Regions from separate parts of the Homo sapiens genome. Here regions 2, 3 and 4 are each reported to be linked to region 1. The links are microRNA targets in miRTarBase. Many come from high-throughput screens and were not tested one by one. Region 1 holds a microRNA gene; each other region holds the end of a gene's coding sequence.

The links. The annotated mature microRNA hsa-miR-5580-3p reads CACAUAUGAAGUGAGCCAGCAC and lies in region 1 at 1,860-1,881, shown strand. An mRNA with a match to its seed (bases 2 to 7 or 8) in the 3' UTR can be bound and repressed. Matches are read on the target gene's strand: a 7mer-m8 pairs with bases 2 to 8, a 7mer-A1 pairs with bases 2 to 7 and ends in A, and an 8mer does both.
Region 2: miRTarBase lists GTF2H1 as a target of hsa-miR-5580-3p. Seed matches in the 3' UTR shown: 7mer-A1 at 839-845.
Region 3: the mRNA of AKAP10 is a reported target of hsa-miR-5580-3p. Seed matches in the 3' UTR shown: 7mer-A1 at 2,034-2,040.
Region 4: the mRNA of GABRG1 is a reported target of hsa-miR-5580-3p. The part of its 3' UTR that is shown has no 7-base or 8-base seed match.

Annotation. Positions count from the first base shown.
Region 1 is chr14:53,946,156-53,950,307 of GRCh38, reverse strand. MIR5580 (microRNA 5580) reads left to right here and starts at 1,824; the gene lies at 1,824-1,881. BMP4 (bone morphogenetic protein 4) reads left to right here. Exons shown (of 4, transcript NM_001202.6): 4 at 1-572. The coding sequence ends at 276. RefSeq lists a silencer at 3,409-3,458 and enhancers at 3,429-3,959, 3,960-4,152.
Region 2 is chr11:18,365,293-18,369,292 of GRCh38, forward strand. GTF2H1 (general transcription factor IIH subunit 1) reads left to right here. Exons shown (of 15, transcript NM_005316.4): 15 at 491-1,753. The coding sequence ends at 577. Among named protein-coding and RNA genes, the nearest start is that of MIR3159, 20 kb to the right of the region's middle.
Region 3 is chr17:19,902,982-19,906,981 of GRCh38, forward strand. AKAP10 (A-kinase anchoring protein 10) reads right to left here. Exons shown (of 15, transcript NM_007202.4): 15 at 1,321-3,251. The coding sequence ends at 3,246. Among named protein-coding and RNA genes, the nearest start is that of ULK2, 37 kb to the left of the region's middle.
Region 4 is chr4:46,037,600-46,041,599 of GRCh38, forward strand. It overlaps GABRG1 (gamma-aminobutyric acid type A receptor subunit gamma1), which reads right to left. Exons shown (of 9, transcript NM_173536.4): 9 at 1-3,655. The coding sequence ends at 3,389. Among named protein-coding and RNA genes, the nearest start is that of GABRG1, 84 kb to the right of the region's middle.

The DNA of each region.
Region 1 (4,152 bases):
AGCGATGTGGGCTGGAATGACTGGATTGTGGCCCCACCAGGCTACCAGGCCTTCTACTGCCATGGGGACTGCCCCTTTCCACTGGCTGACCACCTCAACTCAACCAACCATGCCATTGTGCAGACCCTGGTCAATTCTGTCAATTCCAGTATCCCCAAAGCCTGTTGTGTGCCCACTGAACTGAGTGCCATCTCCATGCTGTACCTGGATGAGTATGATAAGGTGGTACTGAAAAATTATCAGGAGATGGTAGTAGAGGGATGTGGGTGCCGCTGAGATCAGGCAGTCCTTGAGGATAGACAGATATACACACCACACACACACACCACATACACCACACACACACGTTCCCATCCACTCACCCACACACTACACAGACTGCTTCCTTATAGCTGGACTTTTATTTAAAAAAAAAAAAAAAAAAGGAAAAAATCCCTAAACATTCACCTTGACCTTATTTATGACTTTACGTGCAAATGTTTTGACCATATTGATCATATATTTTGACAAAATATATTTATAACTACGTATTAAAAGAAAAAAATAAAATGAGTCATTATTTTAAAGGTAAATCATGATTTTTTTTTTCTCCTTAATCCTTTCTCTTTTCCTTCGGGCTCATCTCTTTTGAATGAGGCTTTTTTCTGTTCAGGTGAGTTGGAGGCTGGATGGAAGTCAAAAGGTGGTACCTGGAGGTGGTTAAGTTGTAGGGACAGGAAGTAAACTGTTGGCAGAGAGAGATGGTAATTGCCAGCATGAATTGTTTTCTATTTCTATTTAATGTTAACAAGGATGCAGTATCCTCTCCCATCTGGATGACACATGCCTTGGAGAAACACTGGGATGAAAGGAGTGTAGGTCAGATTAAAGACTTCATTTCAGGCCCCTTGTACATCTTCTGTTTCACTCACCTGTTGAGGTGTATCACAGCTGAGCGTGATGAGGTCTCAACCCTAGAAAAATGATACCCACCTCTGCTTTCATGATACCTCAGGGTATCTCCAGTTATTACAGGTACCAATGTGATATTTCCAAATCAAAACTAATTTGTACACTAACATCATAATGTGTGTGTGAAGGCATGTTTTTAAACTTATTTTTTTTTTCTCCAGGTAGGACTCTTTTGTTTTTTCTTTTGTCTTTTTTTTTTTTTGAAACAAGTTCTCTCTTTGTTGCCCCAGGCTGGTCTTGAACTCCTGGGCTCAAGCAATCTTCTCATTTCGGCCTCTTTGGGATTACAGGCATGCACTGCTATTTTGTCTTTTTTTTTTTTTTTTGTAACAAATAATGTACCCTACCTTCAAAAAGTTTGATGACTACTGTTTTAATATGCCACTTGATAGAATTTCCCATTGTTTCTTGACTTTTTCCCTTGTCCTCTTTTCCCAATGTGAAGGCCTTCATCAAGTTTAGGATCCCAACAGATTGGGCTGGGTGGGGGTTGACAATGGGGTCAGATACTAAAGGGTCAGAATTTCTAAGCAGGCACTGTGAAGGTGTCCCACTATTATACAGAAATCTCGAGTCAAATGTCAACTCTCCTTTTCGCTCTGTACTGCCTCCCTCACACCCTCTTCCCTGGACTTGGGCAGAAAGAGGTAGATCTGATGTTCTGTGCTAGGGTTTCTTAAAGGGAAAAGCTCAATTTTTGGACAAAGTTAATAAAAAGGAGGATGCTAATGTACCCTCAGTTAAGGGCTCCCAGCAGGCAGATAAATGCCTTTCTGGAATGACGGGTGTAGGGATTAAGAGGAGCAGAGGAGAGGCCTTTGCTTTTTCTTACTTGCCACCAACAACTAAATTAAGCCTTGAATCTTGGTCTGTGCTGGCTCATTTCATATGTGTGCTGAGAAAATTCACACATATGAAGTGAGCCAGCACAGACCAAGATCCCTTTGGATCCCTTTGGAGCAGAAACATTTAGTGTCTTTGTATGTTCTCTGTGGGGAAGGCTGATAGCGCATTTCTCCATCATGAAGGTGTAGATATGAGCGGTAGTATTGCTGTTGCTGGTGGTGTGTGCACCCAAAGAATGTGTGTGGTGCACACTCCTGGCGTTTGCATTTTTCTAGGTGGGGTGTGCACCCTTGCATTCTTGTACACACTTTCTTACATACGCTCCTGGGAGTGGAGTGGGTGAAGCAGGATTCATTTTTGTTTTTAATTACTGAAGTCCTACACTCCTCCAAAAGGAGCAGCTTAGTGGAAACCAATAAAAATTGAAGCGGGGTGGTTGCCAAAACCCCAGCTCCCCGGAGAGCGCAGGTGGAGAGAAGACATCAGAGCCCCAGGCAAAGGCAGCAAGACTACACAGTTCCTCCAAAACTCCCCGCAAAAAGGGATCCTTCCCCCACCCCTCCAACCCCCCAGGTCGCTGCCCCTTTGATTAATGGTATGGAGCTCAAATAAATCATTTAGGGAAGCCCCTTATAGATTGCCCTCAGGCAGCCTCATTTTGTTTTGCCCAATTTCTAGCAACTTTCTGAAACGTCGATGTCATTGAAAAGGAACCAGTAGATCTCCAGTACTTGAACAAATTATCCTAGGGCCAGTACTGAGCCCTGTGGCTGTCCAGTTCTAGCAACCAGCCCCTTCCTCCATCCTCCCCGCTCCTACTGGCTTATTTTCAGGAATGGATAATGTTGTTTATTTGTTCAGCCAAATATTTGGTCTGGGGAATTTACCGTGAAATTCTGTGAATTGCATATACCTAGTTAACAAAATAGTCCTAATGCCACAAATGTTAGCATGGAAAACAAAGAGCTATGGCCAGCGTTAACTCTTTAAATTCTGTTTGAAAGCTTAGTCCTGAGACCCGGGGAGATTAAAAAAAAAATAAAAAAAATTGGATGTGTGTGATTTAGGTTTCGGCATTTACTATTTTTGCCTAATATTCAGTTCAGTACCTGACGGAAGTCGTAGGGTGATTCTCGGCGTTGCTTTTGGATCAAGCCTACCATTTCACCCCATTCATGTTTTTTTTTTTTTTTTTTCTCCAGAGTAATGTTCCTATTACTGAAAGAAAGATGGGGAGGGAAGCTCGCCCTTGAGGAGTTCGGCAAAGTCGTAACCACATCAGAGGAGCTGCTTGGTCGATCCCTACCCAACCCTTAAACTGGAACCGGCTTCCTAGGAGCTTAAAAAAAAAAAAAAAAGGTTGGGGGGGTGTGGAGTGGGACGCATCAAACATTCCCCTGCTTTCGTTGCATAATTCGCCCAGAACCTGCCAGGTGACCTGCTGACTTTGTTTTCTGTCTTGACCGTGCTTCGTTCCACACCCCCCTCGCCGCCGGGCAGCGCCACACTGAGAGGGCTCGGCGCGTCCGCGGCGCGGGCAGACCCCAGTAGTCACCCGGCCTTGGACTGGCGTCAAGATCCAGCCCCGCCGACCCCGCCTCCCGCCCGCTCTGGAGCTCCCAGGCCCGGCGGCGGCGGGGGCACCAGGGGGCGTCCTCCCTGCGGGGGACCAGGGGGACCGTGCACCTGGCGACGGCCCGCGGGAGCCGCGCGGCAGGCGGCCACCCCTCCCCATCCCCGCCGACCGCGGACTGCGGGTCCCCCAGCCCGGGCCCGAGAGCCGGCCCGCTCATCCGCCCTCGGGGACCCAGGCCTCAGGTGAAGCTCTGCAGACACAGACGGATCTGATTAGCGCTCGCTGGTCCTTGGGGCGGTCGCTCTGCAGATTTCATGCGAAATGGGGTCAAAAGGCCGCGCAGAAGCGTGGAGTCTGCAGGGGAAGGCTCCCCGGGGTGGAGGGGCTTAAGAGGGGTCGAGACCTTTAGGGGTTTTCTGTAGGGGGCAGAGAGCGGGAATTAGGGAGCGAGGCTCTCCTGCCTCCGAGCTCACAGTGGGCCTGCATATGGGGGTGACTCAATGGGAGCGGGGACGTGGGCGAGTGGGAAACAGGCCCGCTGGGTGAGGGTCGGACCTGCAGACTGGCCCTGAAGGCTGAGCCGCTGTCTTGGGCCCCTTGGGGACACGGAGAGCCCTGGGTCCCAGCTGAACTGCAGCCAGGGCCCCGCTCCCCAACAGTCGGGGGACGGAGGTGAACGGGAGAGGCCACGGGTGTGCAAGAGTGGAGCTGGACGATTGCTTTCAGAAATGAGATGCCAAGCCATGATACATAATGACAGCACCTCAGCTGACCTCCGC
Region 2 (4,000 bases), not on the chromosome of region 1:
GCTTGGACCTGTGAGGTGGAGGCTGCAGTGAGCCAAAATCACACCATAGCACTCCAGCCTGGGTGACAGAGCAAGACTCTGTCTCAAAAAATAAAATAAAATAAAATAAAGTTTATACTACCATCCTGGCCTTAGTTGGCTGACCAGTATTCAAATCTAGAAAATCACAGATATAGTTCAGACCCCTCGTTTGACAGAAGGAATTGAGGCCTGGAGCACAATTGTGACTTTCATATTGTCCTATTATTGGTTAATGACAGGACAGCCATTACAACCGCAGCCTTTTCACTGCCCCCTACTTTCTGTCTTTCCTTTCCACACAAAATGTGTCTGACAGCACCTTCTCAGAGGGCTTGCACATTACCTCATTGACTGGGGAAATACAGAGGAGCTCCGAAACTACACTCTGAAGTGTGTGCCAGATTTGGGTTGGAAGGATTAACTTCCCCTGCTTTTGCCCAGTTGTTAAGTGTCTTGCTGTGTTTTTCAGTTGGTAAGTCACATAGAAGAGATGCTCCAGACAGCCTACAACAAGCTCCACACATGGCAGTCACGGCGTCTGATGAAGAAAACGTGAGGTGGCCATGATGCTTACAGGTTTTGTGAGATTGAGAGAACTATGACCTGCAGCAACTCTGGAAACCTGGCCTGACAGACAAGCAGATGACCTCACAGGAGTGATAAGAAACATCTGCTCCACGCCAACTCCCAGAGCTGATGCTATTGTACTTGCACATTGGAGACTGAAAGGAAAGAAGGGACTAAATGCTGGGGAGGTAAATTAAGACAGAACCAAATGAGCTAAGTTGCAAATATATATATATACACACACACACATATATGTACATGTGTATGTACATATATATTTTAAAAGACTGTTTACTGCAGTTGCTCAGGAACTGCTTTTGATTCACATTAAGCTGCTTTCAGAAATTAAAAAAACACTTTTTAAAGGGTGCATTGATAAAATCTGAGGTTTTTTGGTTGTCGTTTTTTTCTGTGTACATTTTTTTCCTAAGTTTATGGCACAGGGTAGACCTTAAGTATTCCTCCTCCATCCTTCATTCTTCACCCTCCATTGGATCCTCAAGTTTTAATGAATTCCAATTATACCTTACATCAGCAAGTTAAAAAAAGTACTTTAAAATAAAGCAAAGGGAGACTGTTGCTCAACCATCAGGAAACAGTTGTCAGAAGACATCATTGGTTCTGTGTTTCCTACGGAAATAAGAAACGATAAATATTGCACTGAATGTTTGTGGTTTGGAGTCCCTGAATAATAAAGAGGGAATATATTTGCAGAAAGTCGCATAGGGTTTTTTAATGCAGAATTTTGTCAGAAGACAATGGCGCTGCATGTTTTTCTTTGAGTGCAAATGTACATTGCTAAGATTTTTTTAAGATGGCATGTGCTTTGAAAAGAAGATATTGCATTTTTAAGAGTTTAAAAATCTTATGAGTGAGAAATATTAAAAAAATCTTATTTTCACCTCTTTAGAAGAAATAAAAGATGTTTCTCCTATCTCCTTTTCTCTAGTATTTGACTGTTACTGTCCTTGGCGAATCGATAATCATTGCATAGTGACTGAAAAGCCTAAGTGCAAAAAAAAAAAAAAAAGATGTTCTTGTTTCTGAACTTCGTGCCATATTTTGTTCCTGATGGGATCAACTTAATGTTTAAGACTTTAGATGTCTTGTATTAAAAATTACACAAAAAAAGTAAAACTTTTTATACTTACCCTTTTAACTCTAACACATCTCTGGTTTCTCATTATGTGTGAATTTCCTTGGGTGGGCTGCCTGAGAACTGTTCATTTTATTTTAGGCCATGTTACAAACTGGTTATCCTTCATATAATGACTGCTAAGGTCAGAATCTAAGCCAGGCATGGTAGCACATGCCTGTAGTTCCAGCTACTTGGGAGGCTGAGGTAGGAGGATCACTTGAGCCCAGAAGTTCAAAAGTCCAGACTGAGCAACATAGTGAGACTCCATCTCTTTTTTTACAGAAAAAAAAAGAAAAATTTATGAAGACCTTGAACTGGTAAAGGGAAAGAAGCCACATCATTTTCTGCCTTCAGTCTTCCCATTTCTCTTTCAGATCAGTATATGTACTGGTATAATCCCTTAAAATTTACACTTTCACAAAGTACTTTCAAATGTGTTACTGCTACAGTGGGGCAAATAGAAAAATGATTGAAATAAAAAAAAGTGGCTATTGGGCAAGGCAGACATAAGAAATAGAATGTTCTGTTGAGTGCTGTGTTGAAAATTAAGTTGTAAGCTGGGCATGGTGAGTCATACCTGTAATCCAGCACTTTGGGAGGCCAAGGCAAGAGGATCACTTGAGCTCAGGAATTCAAGACCAGCCTGGGCAACATAGCAAAACCTCATCTCTACTAAAAGTAAAAAAAGTTAGCTGGGCGTGGTGGTATGTGCTTGTAGTTCCAGCTGCTCTGGAGGCCGAGGCGGGAGGATTGCATGAGCCCAGGAGATTGAGGCTGCAATGAGCTATGATCACACCACTGCACTACAGCCTGGACAGTAAGACAAAGCCCTGTCTCAAAAAAAAAAAAAAAAAAAAAAAAAATATATATATATATATATATATATATATATAAAGCCTGAAGGAAAGACTTCATTTAAAAGAGCGTTTTAGCTAAGTCTTGAAGGTTGAGTAGGATTTTGTGAGGTAGAGAAGAAAGTCATCTCTTCTAGACTGAGGGAAGAGCATGATGATGAGAAGGTTTGAAAGACTGAAATATGTTAGAAGAACAGGAAAGATGTGTTAGATTGGAGAGTTGGAAGTGACAAGTAAGGCTCAGAAAACCATGTTAATTCAGGTTGTGAATGGCCTTGTATGCTAAAGTAAAATACTCAGACCTTACCTACTAGGCATGGGAGACTTGAGAGAAAGTTTTAAGCAAGTTGCTTTTATGGGGGGGTTTTCTGGTGGTGGGGGGTTAGGCAGGGGTTAAATAACTTGGCAATTAGGACAGATTTAGAAGACTTTCTGAACAAACCACACAGGAAAGCGTCTACATTAAAATGAAGTCCTGGTAAATAGGAAGGGCCTGAGTAACAGCATTTCTACAGTGTATGTGACTAACTCACAGGGAGTGAAGGAATCAAGGGTGATTCACAGAGATAGCTGTGAATTTCATGTCTAGCTTGCACTTGAAATATTTGAGCCTTGGATACCTTTAGCAATGAACTTCAGCAGCTGTATAGGCCTTTTATGGCCCTTCACCTTCTTGCGGAAAATAATAGCACCACTGATGGTTGAGGGCTGCTGTAAACCAGCATTGTGCCAAACACTTTTTCTGCTGTATCTCCCTTCCCACAACTGAAGAAGCAAGTAGATACTACAAGATTTTGTACAGATTAGAAATGGTTTAGAGGTTAAGTAATTTACCCAAATTCACACAGCTAGTAAGTGTCAGAGCTAGGATTTACCCTAAGGCTTCTCTAGTCTGGAGAAGGGATGAGATGTCTGTGAAGTTGCAAGTTGTTATTCCGCAGCCCAGGCTTCCATTGCCTAGTTTTTCCTTTGACTCCTTTGTCATTCCTGCCTGACTCTATTCTGTGCTTTACTTGTGGCAAATCGCATCATGGGATTAGTCTGCCTAGTAGGCCCTGAGGGCTATAAAATGTAATAATGTAACAACAGCATGTCCTGCCTTAGGAGAATGAGTCTTTTCTGGAAAGAAAGTCAGTAGTGGCCTAGCGCAGTGGCTCACACCTGTAATCCCAGCACTTTGGGAGGCCGAGGCGGGTGGATCACCTGAGGTCAGGAATTCGAGACCAGCCTACCCAACATGGCGAAACCCCATCTCTACTAAAAATACAAAAAATTAGTCAGGCGTGGTGGCAGGCACCTGTAATCCCAACTACTCAAGAGGCTGAGGCAGGAGAATCGCTTGAACCTGGGAAGTGGAGGCTGTGTCGAGCCGAGATCAAGCCACTCTGCTCCAGCCTGGGCAACAAGAGCGAAACTCCAT
Region 3 (4,000 bases), not on the chromosome of region 1:
AATCTCTGCTTCCTGGGTTCAAGTGATTCTCCTGCCCCAGCCTCCCGAGGAGCTAGGATTATAGGTGCCCATCACCACATCTGGCTAACTTTTGTCTTTTTAGTAGAGATGGAGTTTCACCATGTTGTCCAGGCTGGTCTCGAACTCCTGTCCTCAAGTGATCTGCCCATCTTGGGCCTTCCAAAATGCTGTAATTACAGGCGTGAGCCACTGCACCTAGCCCAAAATTCTTTTTCTTATTTTTATTTTTGGAGACAGAGTCTCCCTCTGTCACCCAGGCTGGAATGCAGTGACACGGTCTCGGCTCATTGCACAACCTCCGCCTCCAGGTTCAAGCGATTCCCCTGTCTCAGCCACCCACGTAGCTGGGATTACAGGCGTGCGCCACCATGCCCAGCTAATTTTTGTATTTTTAGTAAAGACAGGGTTTCACCATGTTGGCCAGGCTGGCCTCGAACCCCTGACCTCAAGTGATCCGCCTGTCTCGGCCTCCCAAAGTGTTGCAATTACAGGCATGAGCCACCGTGCCCGGCCCCAAAATTCTTAACATTAAGAACTGTCTTGGGCCTGTCTGGATCAGGAGTTCAACCCAGGTCCAATCAACTGGTGTGTGGGCAAGAGGGAGGAGAGGGCGAGAGAAAAGGTCACTGTGTAGAAACATAAACCCCACTCCTGAAGTCAGGCAGGTACCCAAACACTGTCACTGGAGAGAGGTCAGTCACTTCATCAGGTGCTTAGCTCTCAGTACTTAAATAAAACAGCAAAGAAGTTTGTACTTTGTTACAATTCAGAATGACCTTCCCCTCCAAATTCCTACTGAACTAGTCAAACCTCCAGTACTGTAAACTACTTACATTTCGAAAAGCTCTACTGAATGTTGAAATCCAAGTAGAAAAAGTTATAAAAAGTTACTCCCTGTTTTATTGCTGTTCACTGGATTTGGCTGACATTTGCTTTTTACTTTCATCAAATCTTACCGAATGATGAAGACACATCAAGTTACAAAGGTACCACTTTCTCTCTAATATCTTTTCTTTTTAAACAATTTGTGTCAATGTCAACAACATGATAAAGATGAAGGGTGTTCAACTGATTATTTGAACCCATAAAAACTCCACCAGGGAATCTTATTTTGTGGGCACAATGCACAGAGCCTGGAACATGGTGGGTGCTCAATGTTGGAGGAATCAAATTCCAACTTTAAAATGAGTACAAGGACCTACTTTAGATCAAATATTAAATCTGGCTAATAATTTCGGGCCACACTCCGCTTCTGTGTCTCAAAGCAGGTGGGGCAGAAAAAAGTAGCCGAGTCTCAAATTTGCTGCTATTCTCTTTATAAGCAGTTTACAACTACTTGGCATCTCTAGCTCAGAAGCACAAAATGTATATACAAAGAAATGATTAGAATTTATCTTAACTGAAAGCACTAGTTTAAACAGCCTAGAGTCTTGTAGAAATTGTTATTCCAAAACATGCAGAGGCAGCAAGAGTTGCCCAAAACCACATTTTATTCTATAACCTTTATATTGCTTTTCTGTTAAAGATTGAAGCAATGTGAAGTGGATGGAAATATTTTGTTAAAAGAACAAAATGAATTAATCACAGCATAGATGACTAATAAAAACCTTGGGTTTATGCCATACACTTCAAACACAAGGCAAAGTCCAGTAGTGGCTCATGTTCTGGGTTTTTAGAAAGCAAATGAAAATATTTGGAAAGATCAATATATTTCAACAGAAGAGCCATAAATGCCCTGAAAGCAGAAAGTTGACACAATTTTAAATAGAATTCATATATATATATTTTAAAATCAAACACAATTAAATATAATATGGTTTAAGTACATGAATACTTCAGCTTTAAAAGAATAACAGAGGTGGTACATAGTACCAAAAACTTACACAAAGCCTTTTTGCTTCTTCTGTCGATGAAACAGTGTGCCTCTATACAATCAAATATTGCAATGGAATAAATTCTCTGTTCATTCAAGACTTTCTCAAGGACAAAAGTGATTAATAATTATATATTTATACATATATATATATATTTTTTTTTTTGCAAAGTCTGAGCAAAAGCAGTAACATCTAAGAGAACTTTCTTTCCTCTCAATCATGTGCATTGAGGAAGCGCTGGCGCCACGTGGTCAATGGAGTGTGCTCACCAACTGGGCAGTCCTGCTGATGGCTGTGTGATCCCGATGCAGAAGCCAACTGAGCAGAAGTGCAGTGAGTGAGTCTCTTACTATCCTAAAGAAAGGAGAAGAAAGACGACCAACTGCACACTTTCCAGCTCACAGCAAAGAATGGGGGAGGCAGTCAAAGTCAAATGTTTCTCTCTCCCCAGTCATCCTGCTCACCTTATTTAAAAAAAAAAAAAGTATAATTTGGGAAGAACTGCTTTGTTCAAGGTGCCACAGGGGCAAAAGTGGAGTCATCGCTATTTCTTTCTTTCTTTCCACATGTATTCTGAAGGGAAAGTTAAGTAACTGGAGTGCAGAATTCCAAAGGGGCAAATCCTAATGCTCAAAGTAAACCAGATTCACACCCTTCTGTTAGCAGGGGAGAGAATGGTTTTAAGTATAGTGCATCTCAGGAGGAGGAATTAAAATGTGAAAACTATATACTGCCATCAGAGGAAGGAGGAAGTCACTGAAACTTGACCCATGACTTGTCAGTTTCCTTCCAAATTAATGCCGCTGTCAAGAAGACTGCATAATTAACTCTCACCCTGTTCCGCTGAAGCTGCTAGCACCACGCTGCCACTCAAAGCTGCCTGGCTCTCGGTGGGGCTGACTCACCTGCTTTGGAAGGACAAAGCAAACCACCTCTGGCACCTGCTTTACAATGCTGATTAGGGATGAGTTACCACTACGAGTGTGCATCAAGTATCAGTTCTATGCTTATCTGCTTCCCAGAGGATGTGGTCCCTGTCTATTCCAGTAGGCTAAAACACTCTCATAAATGGGTTATTGCCATTGGAAAACTAATAATTTTCTAGTAATGTAAACAATACCATTTTGTATCTTTAAGACTCTCACTGTGTGAACATCATGTGCATCAATTATGCCTACAGGTAACTGCATTATGGTGGAAGTCTAGGATTGTCTCCCATTCTCTCCTGGAAACAACAGTGACAGATCAGAAATATAGTGCTGTTTTCATTGGCTGTGTTGAAGAATCCAACCAAGGGAAAAAAGTTCTCTTATTTTTCACAAGCAGATTTCCTTTATCTCAAGTTTTGAGTCATAACTGAAAAAAGAAAAGAAAAGAAAATGGTAAGGTGCATTTCTCTAACAAGTGACCTATTATTACAAATTAAGGATGGACACCAACACTTAGTGTTTACTATATACCAGAGTTTAAGACAGCCAGAAGCTGACTACAATTTTGTGAGGTAAAATATTGTAATTTTCCTTGTTAAAATATGAGTGAACAGAAGCTTAAAGAGGTTACGTAACTTACCCAAGGGGCATATAACAAGGACTGGCATCCAGACTTGCTTTCCCATGTTGGCAATAGATATTAGAATGAAAAATATTGCCAATTTTCAATAGAGTAATTCTACTTCTAGGAATTAACCCTAGAGCATATTCAAGAGGGATGGTAAAGACACACATGCAGACATTCACTGACTCCCTCCTGTAGTCACAGCACTGCGGACAAATATCACGGAAGACAAGGTCCCCGGTATTGTGGCATGGGACATGTGCACATGAAGCAATTCAGTAATGGTGTGAGGTAGTTTATGCTGAATGTCCAAGTACATCCTATAGGCAAATGTCGAGTTGGAGGTTGAAGCAGAGAGGTATCAACACAGGATAAAGAGAATGAGTATTCCTTCGCAGGCCTAGGACTTCATGCATTCATAAAATCATGGAATGAGGATTAGAAGGGGTTTTTCTTTTGGGGTTTTGGTGTCGAATTTCTCTGATCTACTAATGAGGACATGAGGAACTAAAGTAGTCACCTGCAAAAGGTCACACTTACTGCCTAAAGTA
Region 4 (4,000 bases), not on the chromosome of region 1:
AAATAATTTCAAATGTAGTATTTTTTTACAGGAAATTTTGTAAGAGTAAAAATAGGTACTGGTATAGAACTTTGAAAATATTATGCATGTATTTATTCATTCGTTATACATTTACTTAAATACTGGTTATTTATTTCAATCTACTAAAATCATCTTATTTAAAGCTCCTCTCTTGTAAAATCAAAGTGTTTTGTGTATTTTTCACAAATTTTGACCTGGAATATAATTTCACATTTATAACTATGGGGCCCTTGGTGTGAGAGAACTGTAGCCTATTCTTTTTTATGCTGAATTGGCATGAATGCAGATTTCAATTTTATTCTTGTTCTTGAGACAAAAACATTGTCTATTTTATGATGATATACTAATGCCAGAATATGGAAACACAAGTGAAAAAATCCTTATGATTGCCTTCATATTTATACACATTTACTGTGCTTAATTTAAAGTTGATCAATTTTAAAAACTTATTAAAGAAATCTGTCTTTAACTTAAAATAAAATGCCTCCAATTAGTTATCTAATTCCCACTTACATCAAGACTTCAGACTTACTGGGAAATTTTTCCCTGTCCCTGCTAAATTCTCAAGTATTCTATGTATTTTTTACTTTTTTTTAGAACTTACTTGGGTTTACAAAAATTAATTTAAGTGAGCCTAATTTTGTCCATGGAATTCGAAGATAAATAAAATATTACCCTGTCATTGTAAATCCAAAATCACATTTTCCCCTCTCAGAATTTCTAGATCCTTGTCACATATTTAGAGGATAGGTCTATATAAACAAACATTTTTACAAATGATCTTATTCCTTGTGCTCCAGGTATCCTTCCCAATTCTTTATATCTAATTTTGGGGTCTATGTTAGCATTAAAAACATTGAAAGCATCCAGGAAAATCAAGTTCCAATAAATTCAATAAATTATTATATAACTCCCCAGAGAAAGAGGAAGATTTTTTAAAAAAATTATTTCTCAAGGTGGTGAAACTTATACTTGGAATAGAGGAACAGGAAATGAACTGAATCAGCTTTGAAAAAAAGCTGTATTTGATTTCTTGAGAAAGAAGTCTAAATGTAGTTTTACCTTTTTATTCTTATTTTTAGAAATAATAAGATTTGTACGCCATTCTTTCTGATCACACATTTAAATAAAACTGATCAAAATACCACTTGCTTTGAAAACAAAGTGCTTGCTTGATGGTATATACAAGGAAAGGCATCTTTCATATATTTACAAATTTTATTTCCACTTGTAAATATTGTCAACATTTAAAACCAAGTTAATGAAACACCAGTGAGAAAATCAAAGCTATTTTTTTTCTTTTACATAGAACGTGGTTCAGAAGGAAAAGCTATTTATATCAAGCACTTTTAAGTATTTTAAAATACAGTCATGCTCAGATACACTTGAAAGAGTCCCAAAATCAAAACTGTCTCATGATAGTAAGCTATAGCTTCAAACATGAAAATAGCCATACAATATTTTAGTAAAGTATTTTATTCTTTATTACTACTTTATTTTTTATTTATCCTTAAATGAATGCTCACTTTCAAAACATCCATCAGTACTCAATGTTATTAAAATGAATGTATGAATAATCTGTAAATGAATATATAGATGGCCAAAGTTTAGTTTGGCTGTTCATTCAAGAAAAGCAGTGTCGGTGGATATTGGGCATTACCATTTGATTCATGCTTATTTTTTTCCAGAAGTTTATGAGCAAGTGAAAAAAAAAATAGAGTTAGCTGGGAACACACAGTAAATTATAAATAAATTAATTAAAAATTTAAAAAACTAGATATTTCCAATACACGTGTATAATCATGCCAGACATTCACTAACCACGCAGCGGAATTATAACATTAAAAACTAGAGTAACAATTGCAGAGGTGACAGGTTTCCTCTCAAACCTTAAGTAAGATAGGCTGTGATCATAAAACTCTTCATCATGGTCATTGGTCTTGGCAACAGAAACAATCTTTAAAGGTTATTTCCAAGCTAAACCTGGTGGTTCTCCAGAAATTTATGTGATGAATCTTATAAACAATTGGTATGTCAAGCTACTTACAGGATTATAATGATTGAAGCCTAAATTTATTCTTAACAAAAGAGACATTTTTAAAACTATTAACTGATAGATTTTACATCCAGTGAGATGCTAAGAATTTAGAGAGCACTCACATTCATGTTCATTAAAGATGCCTCTAACAAAACTCCCTCTTTAACATGATTTTGAGGCTGCCCCCAGTTTCTAGAAAAAAAAAAGAATATTATAATAATGTATAATGTAGTTGCAAAACTGACAGGGTCCAAAACTTTGGAGCTGGAAGAGGCAATATGTAACGCAGGCCTAAAACTGTTTTCTGCATATTACTAGTCTAAAAACAATGCTAATAGCACATATTTAAGATTTTGTCCTCAATATGACCGGCAACTCAGTTTGCCAGGTAATAATTTTTTAACCACGTGAGTAAATACAAGCAATGTTCCTCAATATTTTTATTTTAGGGACTGCAACACTTTCATAAAACATAAAGAAAAAAATAATCATTTCTCTCTGCATTTAATTTGCATTAATGTGCATTTGCAGATTTTAATATTTCAGTGTTAACCTCATCATACATTATAAATGCTATGAAGCAGAGAATAAAATGGTTAGATTTTACCTGATTTTTTCATCTTGCATTCTTAAAAAATGACTGGTGGCTTCATTCCAAGTTTGCAAATCACCAAAGTAAATGCAACTGGCGTTCTGTTTAATATTGTGTCAGAAAATGGACTGGATTAAAAGACAGGTAAAAATTGACCTTTTCATAAGTCTTCAGTAACTGATAGTTTAAAAATAAATCAATTTCTTCTTGGGAATACAATATCTTGGAAGAAAATCCAAGAAAACTATGGCTTTATGTTATCAACTAACTGTATTTCAAGCAGGGTAATCAAATGAAAAGCAAGAAAAAACAAATTAACAGTCTTTTTTCTGGCACAAAAGTTGCTACATAAATATTAGTAATTAGTCTTACATTACAAAACAATTATAGATTATATTTAAACAAAATATGTATTAAAATTATTCCATCTTTAAAACATGAATCATAGAACTTAAAAATTCAAAATTATAATAACATATAAGTAAATTAAAGAAAATTTAAGTAAAAATATGTGAGTATTTTAACCTACTGGATTTTGCAACTAATCAGTTTCACGTAAATTAGCCTGAAAGCTGCTACTTTATTTACTTCTGAAGGCCTTAAAATAGTTACAATACTATTCACATTTTAACCATTGGTCTCTCTGCATTTTAAATTTAAACTTCAAGTTACTGAAGCACAAAAGATTCTACTGAATTTAGTCAGACTTCTTTTGATTTTTGCTTATGAAGTAGATTTTATAAGTAAAGATAGCCAACCCAATAAACCAAGTTGAACAGGGCAAAAGCGGTTGGGAAAAATATTCTAGAATAAGAGTCAATTTTGGCAATGCGTATGTGTATCCTTCCTTCCCTCCAAGATCCTGTTCTGCAGTCTTCAAAGCAACAGAAGAAGCTGGCACAATCTTTGCCCTCCAAACACTGATACCCATAATCATCTTCTTGCGGCACAGAAATATTATTCATTGGAATCAGAGTGGATCCAGGATGGAGACCAGGAGTCATCTGAGCACAATAATAAATGAATTTTTGACATCAAAAAAGTAGCATAAGGAAAGATCAATTTGCTCCTTTAACGCAAACTCTAGGAGACTGACAGGTAATGAAAATAATCTTGATTTCAAAAAATCAAGTATTTTCAATTATAACATGTTTTATATTATAATTTGCTTTGTAATAGAACATTTGTTACATTCTATTAAGCAGAAATGAAATACCCCTGAAAAATAAAATATATTTTTATACATTTAGAAAGTTGACTCACCAAAATATCATTTACCATGGATCTAATTCTAAAATAAAATGAACTGTATATTCTATTTTATATTAAAACATTAACAGTGCTATACA